3 separate regions of the Homo sapiens genome follow, and all the other regions are linked to region 2. Evidence: fine-mapped expression QTL. A gene starts in region 2. Each other region holds a variant in brackets. All regions are shown on one strand. Distances are between the middles of the regions. Region 1 overlaps CEP131 (centrosomal protein 131). Region 2 holds the start of CEP131 (centrosomal protein 131). Region 3 overlaps CEP131 (centrosomal protein 131).

Region 1 (2,749 bases), 33 kb after region 2:
TAGCGCACCCCTGGACAGGGGTCTGGAGAGGGGGAAGGCCCCTTGCTCCCCTGTGGCTCAGAGCCTGGAGCCCCCCAGGACCCCCTGAGGCTGGCCCTGGCCCCGCGGGCCGGCTCCGGGTGGCAACCCCCAGGCAGCGCATGTCCCCCCAGGAGGCGTGGCTGCTGAACCGGGAACAGGAGCTGAGGGAAGAAATCCGGAAAGGCCGGGACAAGGAGATTGAGCTGGTCATTCACCGGCTGGAGGCCGACATGGCGCTGGCCAAGGAGGAGAGTGAGAAGGCTGCCGAGAGCCGGTAAGGACCCGCCATGGCTGGGTCACCAGCTGGGGAGGCCCACGAGCTGAGGCGCAAGGACCCGTGTGTGACTGGGCTGGAGTGACCCTGCCCTCCCCCCACCTCCAGCATCAAGCGCTTACGGGACAAGTACGAGGCCGAGCTCTCCGAGCTGGAGCAGTCGGAGCGGAAGCTTCAGGAGCGGTGCTCGGAGCTGAAGGGCCAGCTTGGGGAGGCCGAGGGCGAGAATCTGCGTCTGCAGGGCCTTGTGCGGCAGAAGGAGCGGGCGCTGGAGGATGCGCAGGCGGTGAGTGGGCGGGTGTCAGGTGGGCAGTGGGCACCCACAGGCCCCTCCTGCATGCACGCAGCCAGTCGCTGGCAGCCGGCTCACTGCCTTCTGTGCCCACCCAGGTGAACGAGCAGCTTTCTAGCGAGCGCAGCAACCTGGCCCAGGTGATCCGCCAGGAGTTCGAGGACCGGCTGGCAGCCTCTGAGGAGGAGACGCGGCAGGCCAAGGCCGAGCTGGCCACGCTGCAGGCCCGCCAGCAGCTGGAGCTGGAGGAGGTGCACCGGAGGTGGGCGGCGGGGGCTGCAGGGCTGGAGACGGAGGCGGGGCAGGGGAGCGGGCAGGACCTCTGCAGCTCCAAGCCCCAGGAGGCTGTGGCTGAGGAAGGCCAGGAGATGCAGAGACAGGGCCCTGTAGACAGAGGCTGGTGTGGGTTCCATGTTTGGGGCCCAGGAGACCTAGATCTGTTTTCCTCCCTGGTGCTTAGTCTAGGGTGTCGGCCATCCCTGTTGGGGCACCCGAGTGGGTCGGGTCTGGGCCTGGCGAGTTCTCCAGGGAGTCAGCTCCCGGGGCCCTGGGCTGGGTGGACAGGCGCTGAAAGAGCTGGGGCACTGTAAGGTTCCCAGCGAGCTCCCTCCACGGGGGTCCTGCATCCTTCCTGTGCCATCTGCTGCCACAGGCTGAGAGGTGGGTGTGGGCGAGGTGTCCCACCCCATCTGGGTACCAGGCCTCCCCAGGTGTGGCCAGGGTCATACTCCAGTGGCCTGTGTTGGGTCCTGACTCACAGCAGGTGGGTTGCCTGGACAGCTGTCTGGGCCAGCCACAGGAGTCGTGGTCAGCAGGGCTGGGACCAGGCTGACCAGGCGGCTGCCCCGTGCACCCTGTGCACTGCAGGCCACTCTGGGGACATGGGGCGGGGGCCACACTGAAGCCTACCATGTACTACCCACAGGGTGAAGACAGCCCTCGCGAGGAAGGAGGAGGCCGTGAGCAGCCTCCGGACACAACATGAGGTGAGTCCCTGTGGCCAGCCCTGCTGGACCTCGGGGCTGGGAGCAGGCCTGACCCTGTGGGTGTG[C/T]TGCAGGCTGCGGTGAAGCGGGCCGACCACCTGGAGGAGCTGCTGGAGCAGCACAGGAGGCCCACGCCAAGTACCAAGTGACCAGGGATGCCGGGAACACTGTCGAAGAACGGAAGGCAGAGGACAGAGGCTGGACGTGGGCCCAGAGGCCCACAGGGACGCCCACCTGCCCCCCACAGAGGCTGGTGGTTGAGATGCCCACGGCTAAGCACCTGTGGCTGCATTTTAACAGTAAAGGAGGCCGTTGTTTTCAGCGCCTTGAGTGACTGCCTTGTCTTCTCTCCTGGGCTAGAGGCTGCCCAAGACCCCCAGAGCAGCCAGGCGTGGGTTTGGCTCTCTTCCTCCCACTCCCCTCCGCAGCCTGAGCAGGCTGACCAGGAAATCACGAAGCTTGGCCATCAGCCCCCCAGCTAGCAGCCCTCAACACTCAGCCAGCAGCCCCCAGCACTCAGCCAGCAGCCCCCCTGCACTCAGCCCTCAGCTCCCCAGCATTCAACCCAACCCCCAAGTTCCTGTTCCCTGCCTTGCCCTGGACCCTGGAAGTCCCAAGCACAGGGAATTCCCTACCCCGTTCCTGGCCAGGCGCAGGAGGAACTCAGCAGAACTCACCCCCTGGGAGGAGCTCCGAGGGCCCCGCCGTGGCCCTGCAGGTGCTGGAAGCCCATGGCTGCCAGCGTGCTCCTATGGCTGGAGAGACTCCAGAGGGACAGGAAGCCCTACCCTCCCCGCTGTCAAGGTGTGACAGTCTGGAGCTCTCAAGAAATGGGGATGGACAGGGCCCACCCATGAGGATGGGGGCACTGGGGAAGGTCCCAGGCAGGAGAGGGTACCACTGGCCCAGAGCATCTCTTCACACCCAGCCTGGTTCTCAGCCCAGGTCAGCTTGGCCTGGTCAGTTCAGAACCTGCCCCAAATCCTCAGGGGGGCAGCCCTCCCTCCACCTCCGTCTACACTGACCAGGAAGTGAGTGTTGGATGCCATCTCACTGGGATGGGAGGTCCAAAGCCGCGCCTGAACGCTTGGTGGCAGACAAGGGTCTCCAAGCAGGCCGCACTATCCTGGGACCGGGCTTTGGGGTCGCTCAGGCTGCCACACCACAGTGTCCCGGCGT
Region 2 (2,749 bases):
TGGTGATCTCCGCTCACCGCAATCTCTGCCTCCTGGGGTCAAGCGATTCTCCTGACTCAGCCTCCTGAGTAGCTGGGATTATAGGCAGACGCCACCAGGCACGGGTAATTTTTTTGTATTTTTACTAGAGACGGGGTTTTGCCATGTTGGCCAGGGTGATCTCGAACTCCTGACCTCAGGTGATCCGCCCACCTCAGTGTCCCAAAGTTCTGGAATTACAGGTGGGACCCACTGCGCCCGGCCGGCAGTTTCTTATAAACAATCATTTGATCCAGCAACCCCACTCCTGGGTATTTACACAAGAGAAATGAAAAGTTGTGTCCACACAGAAGCCGATGAGTGAATGTTTATGGCAGCGTCATTCATAATTGCCAAGCACCAGGAACAATCTCTGCGTCCTTCATTTGATGAATAAAACCATCAATAAATAAAACCATCTGAACCGGTGGTTCACACCGGTTACAGGATACCACTCAGCAATAAAGAGGAACCAGCATGAATCTCAAAATGCGAAGTGGTAGAAGCCAGACCCACAGGCGCGCTGCGCGACATCCCTTTTGTGTGACATTCTGGAAAAGGCTGCCTCTAGGGATGGAGAACAGAGAGAACTGAGCAGCCGCCACCAGCAGTCAGCAGGTACGGGATCCGGAGGGAGAATGTTCTGTAACTAAAGTTACACAACTCCACTGCACACCAAAAAATGTGGATTTTACTGAAACCAAACTTTTTATTTTACAGAGCACTGGACTTTTTAAAAAGCGGGGGCAGGGGAGACCAGTGTGCTGTGACTTTTAGGGGAAGGATGGCTTCCCTGGAGAGGACCTGGGCGGAATCCCCAGGGCTCCCGGAGAGAGGGGGAGTCACAGAGCGGCTACGCACGGGGCGCAGCGTTAAAACTTTGGAGAAGGAAAAAAAACAACAAAGCAGCGCGAAGGGAAGGAGGTCAGGGAGGTTAGCAAGGCGCCCACACGCCCTCGCAGTCGTACTGAGTAACGAGGGGAGTCGCGCACGTGGGTGGGGACAGAGCGGCCTAGGACACTGGGGGAGCCCCGGGCCGCGGGAGTGCGGCGGCCTGGGGGTGTCGGGGAGCCGAGCCGAGGCCGCGTGCTCCTCGCGCCCTCCCTGGTGTCTCCTCCCCAGGCCCTGCGTGCCCCGCCCACACCTGCCTTGCCCCGCCCACATCTGCCTCGCCCTACTCGCCCATCACACCCCCACCTCACGCCCCGCCCACAACCGCTGGGGCCCCGCCCCTGCCCGGCCAGCTCCTCCCGCCGCCCTCGGTCCCCCGCCCCCTATATGACCCGCCCCTTTCCAGCCGCGTCCAATCGGCCGCTCTCTGTAGTCGCGTCCCTCAGCCATCCGCCGCTCCTCCCACGCTTGAACTTCCCGAAGGACAGCCGAGCGGCCCAATGAGCTCCCGGGACGGCCTGAGCGGGAGCGTGAAGGGCCAATCCGGAGTCGGCGCGCGCAGGAAAGGCGGGCCGGCGTGACGGGCTGGGGAGGTGGTGCCAGGCTGGTTGCTAGCTGCCGCCGCTGCTCACCCCGGCCGTCCGGCCGCTTCATTGTCACCGGGCCTCGGGGCAGTGTTGGGGGTGGCGGGGCGCCAGGTCGCCGACCCGAGGTTTGGGCGCGACTGGTTCCGCATCCCCTCCCCGCCGGCCGAATCTGCAGGCCCCGCGCGCCAGGCAGGCTTCGCGGCTGCGCCCCCGGCCCGCGCAGGTGAGGGGGGCCCGGGCAAGGGAGGGGGTTGCAGGGCGCACGGAGGTTGGAGGGGTCCGGAGCCCGCGCAGGTGGGAGGCCCTGGTCCAGTGATGAAGTGATGGGGATCCGGGGCACGCACAGGTGAGTGGGGGGATCTGGTGCCCGCGCAATTGAAGGCGGGATCCGGGGGAAGTGAGGGGGATCCAGGGTGCGCACAGGTGAGGGAGGTCCGGGGCCCGCGCAGGTGAAGACAGGCTCGTGCCTGAGGGTGTGGGTCCCCACCTCCATCCCCTCCACCCTCTCCACCTCCCTCCACTCCCCTCCGGTCCCCAGGACAACATGGAGTCCAGTCCCGGCATCTCTGGCCCGGCTGCCTTAAGCCCTGGGGAAAATGGGGAGATGGGAGCTGCCCTGAGGACAAGTGGAGGGCTCTGCTCTGCGCGTGGGCTCTGGCCTCTCTGTCCAGGGTCAGGGTCAGGGTCAGGGTCAGCCCACCCTGGGAACCAGGTCCTGGCGCTGGTCATCAGTCCCCGCCCCTTCAGGTCCTGGGAGGGACACAGTTTTATCCAAGATGTAGTGGCCTCCCAGGCCTCCCTTCTTCTGGCTTGGAGGTTTCCATGGAGAGGCCCCGTTCGCCATCCCAGAGCCGCTTGCAAGTGTGGCTGGGAGAGCAGAGTCCTGGGCTCCAAGGGCTTGCATGGGTCCAGCCAGGGGTGGACAGTGCCCTGCAGGAGGAGGGTGTTAAGTTTCTTCCGCACAGCCGGAAGTGCATAACTGAGGACTGGGACCTGGTCAGTGGCAGGGTCAGCCTCTAGGGAGTAGGGGTATCCATCGCTCCGTGGAAGGGACCTTGGGGGACCTGCTGTGGGGTGCCGGGCTGAAGGAAGCCCAGGGTGACCTTGGGCGATAGGCTGGGTGCCTGCTGGCCTACTGGAGGCCACCGTGGCAGGGAGGTAATTCTCGAGGTTGGTCCCTGGCGCCAGCTTCTCCCGTTCATCTACGGGTTCAGCTGAGTGCCTTTCCCTGCAGGTGCTGGGGTTGCTCAGGA
Region 3 (2,749 bases), 26 kb after region 2:
TGTCTGTGCCAGGGGTGTCCTGAGCTGAGCTTCTCCCAGCCCCTCCTCTGCTCTAGGGGCCACTTAAGCTCAGAGAGGCCACCCAGGAGGTGTCTTCTTGCTCTGATGCATGGTGCTGGCTGCCTCTTGGGGAGCCTTTGCTGGGGTGGATCCAGTTGGGTTTTTGCAGATGTCCTGGGGTGGGGGGCCTTGCATCCTCATCCACAAAAGAGGAGCTTCCGGCTCTGAGGGGTGACCTGACAGCCAAGGCTCCCAGGCTGCTCAATGGTGGGGCCAGGTGGCTGCACTCCTGTTTTCCTGGAGTGGGGCACTGGGAGGAGTCCCCTGGTGGCTGGAGCTGCTCTGGGTTTGAGCAGCTGCAGAGACCGGGTGGGAAGGTCTGAGCCCTGGCCTCACCTTCCTGGGGCTGAATGTCGGGACTGGGGAGCTCCCGCGGCGCCTTTGGGGCTCTGCGGTTGGCCTCCTATGTGGGGGCTGCTCTCAGCTACCAGCAGCCTTGCTGCATCTGTCTCCCTGCTCTTTTGCAGGACGTTCTTGCCCAGGATGCAGCTGGGGACAACCTGGAGATGATGGCCCCGAGCAGGGGGAGCGCCAAGTCCAGGGGGCCACTGGAGGAGCTGCTGCACACACTGCAGCTGCTGGAGAAGGAGCCGGACGTGCTGCCCCGCCCCAGGACCCATCACAGGGGCAGATACGCCTGGGCCAGCGAGGTGACCACGGTGTGCGCCCGCCCTGCACAGTCTGTCCACCCACGCCATTCACACAGAGCATGCGGTGGCTGTGGGGGTTGGGAAAATGGGGATGCCACAGGCTCCTCCTGGCTTTAGTCACAACCCTCCCTCCCAGAGCCCAGCCTCAGCTGCCACCTCTGCCTTTGGGGAACCCAAGTCCTCAGGCTGCCCTGACAGCCCCCGATGCTGGGCTCCTGTCCCACAGGAGGATGACGCCAGCTCTCTGACAGCTGACAACTTGGAGAAATTTGGAAAACTCAGTGCGTTCCCCGAACCTCCTGAGGATGGGACGCTGCTATCGGAGGCCAAGCTACAAAGCATCATGAGCTTCTTGGACGAGATGGAGAAGTCTGGGCAGGACCAGCTGGACTCCCAGCAGGAGGTGGCCCCTCACCAGCCCGCACCCGGCCCCCAGTGGGAGGAGGCCCCTCACGAGCCTGCACCTGGCCCTCGGGGGAGGAGGCCCCTCACCAGCCCGCACCTGGCCCCCAGGGGGAGGAGGTCTCTCGCCAGCCCCCACCCGGCCCCCAGCAGGAGGTGGTCCCTCACCATGTACCCACCTAGTTATGCAGCACCCCCCACGGGTCTCTCAGGGTGGAGGTGGCAGGGCCCGCATTCCCCATACTGCCCCCACCTACCCGCTGCCCCGAGCTGCCTCCACGAGCCCATATGTGTGGATAGTTCAGCCCTCTGGAGCCCTGCTGTCCTCTGGGTTGGTTTGTCCTGGGTGAACAC[T/C]AGCGGCCAGGCTAAATGGAGCAGTGACGTGAACTTTATTGTCACAGGGCAGGAAGCTGGGCAGCATAGAACTTTTTAAATGGTTTGTTTTTTATTCCTGAGGCCACGGCCCCCATTTCCTGTACTGAGCAATGAAAACGACCTCTGCTGGGCCGCCTGCCACCTGCCCTCCGGCTTCCCACGGGCTCCCGTGTGCAGCAGCCCCTCTGTCCCCAGAGGGCAGGGCCGCAGGGGCATCGTGTCAGGTCCTTGGCTGCCCCCCGTCCTCTGCCGCTTCCGCCTGACGCTCGGCTGTGTCTGCAGGGGTGGGTGCCGGAGGCGGGGCCGGGGCCCCTGGAGCTGGGGTCCGAGGTGAGCACGTCTGTGATGCGGCTGAAGCTGGAGGTGGAGGAGAAGAAGCAGGCCATGCTGCTGCTGCAGAGAGCGCTGGTAACGCTGCTGGCACTGCTAATCCCGGGCCCTGCTAGCCTCCTACCTGCTGAGGCCAGGCCCACCGGTCCTAGCGCTTCCCTCCTCTGCCCACACCCTGCAGGCGCAGCAGCGAGACCTCACGGCCCGGCGGGTCAAGGAGACAGAGAAGGCGCTGAGCCGGCAGCTGCAGCGGCAGAGGGAGCACTACGAGGCCACCATCCAGCGGCACTTGGCCTTCATTGACCAGGTGAGCGGCCCGGGGAGCGCAGAGGCCCGGACCCAGCGCGTGGCTCATGGAGACTTCCAGAGCCAGGGGCTTCCCACTGCCAGGGAGCTTCTTCCTCTGTTGGGTGTCACACGGGTGTCCGCTGGACGCATTCCAAGCCTTTCCCATGCCATTCCCAGCCATGCATGCCCTGGAGAGGGCACTCCTGTCTTTATCCAGAGCCGCCCCGTGTGAGTGTAGTGGGGTGTCCTGCCGGCCCCTCAGCTCAGTCGCAGCCCCGGTTGGCTCCTGTTCTGAAGAGAAGAGACCTAGAGTTGGTCTGGGGTGTGTGAGAATAGGGGCCTCCAGGGCTGCTTGATAGTTGTCACAGGTGTGTCCTGACCTGGGGTCTGGCCTGGGGCCGGCAGTGAGGCTGGTGTGGTCCTGACACCCTTTGGCAGACAGTGAGCCTCCTCCAGGGCTGGGTGATGGCCTCGGCAGAGCTACCCTCATCCCAGGAAGACCCTGACATCACTGCAGGGGGTGGGCTGGGGCTTCTCTGACATTCGCCGGGTCCCCCAGCTGAGGACAGGACGGCGGATGCAGGCCTGGGCCCGTGTTTGCACACGTGCCCCCCCACTGGCCCCAGGGTCCATCCACAAACCTA

What was found. PIP is the estimated chance that this variant, and not a neighbour inherited with it, causes the effect.
Region 1: its variant is fine-mapped to the expression of CEP131 in whole blood (TOPMed, PIP above 0.99). The same link has a PIP of 0.9 or more in caudate, cerebellar hemisphere, cerebellum, cerebral cortex and putamen.
Region 3: its variant is fine-mapped to the expression of CEP131 in sigmoid colon (GTEx, PIP 0.99).

Annotation. Positions count from the first base shown.
Region 1 is chr17:81,188,739-81,191,487 of GRCh38, reverse strand. It overlaps CEP131 (centrosomal protein 131), which reads left to right. Exons shown (of 26, transcript NM_014984.4): 22 at 153-295; 23 at 404-581; 24 at 686-849; 25 at 1,513-1,573; 26 at 1,645-1,892. The coding sequence ends at 1,719. Among named protein-coding and RNA genes, the nearest start is that of AATK, 24 kb to the right of the region's middle. The variant C/T (reference allele first, on the strand shown) is at 1,639.
Region 2 is chr17:81,221,739-81,224,487 of GRCh38, reverse strand. CEP131 (centrosomal protein 131) reads left to right here and starts at 1,523. Exons shown (of 26, transcript NM_014984.4): 1 at 1,523-1,719. RefSeq lists silencers at 931-1,300, 1,461-1,790 and enhancers at 1,152-1,821, 1,822-2,491, 2,492-2,749.
Region 3 is chr17:81,196,076-81,198,824 of GRCh38, reverse strand. CEP131 (centrosomal protein 131) reads left to right here. Exons shown (of 26, transcript NM_014984.4): 12 at 528-710; 13 at 937-1,113; 14 at 1,770-1,895; 15 at 1,999-2,124. Among named protein-coding and RNA genes, the nearest start is that of CEP131, 26 kb to the left of the region's middle. The variant T/C (reference allele first, on the strand shown) is at 1,467.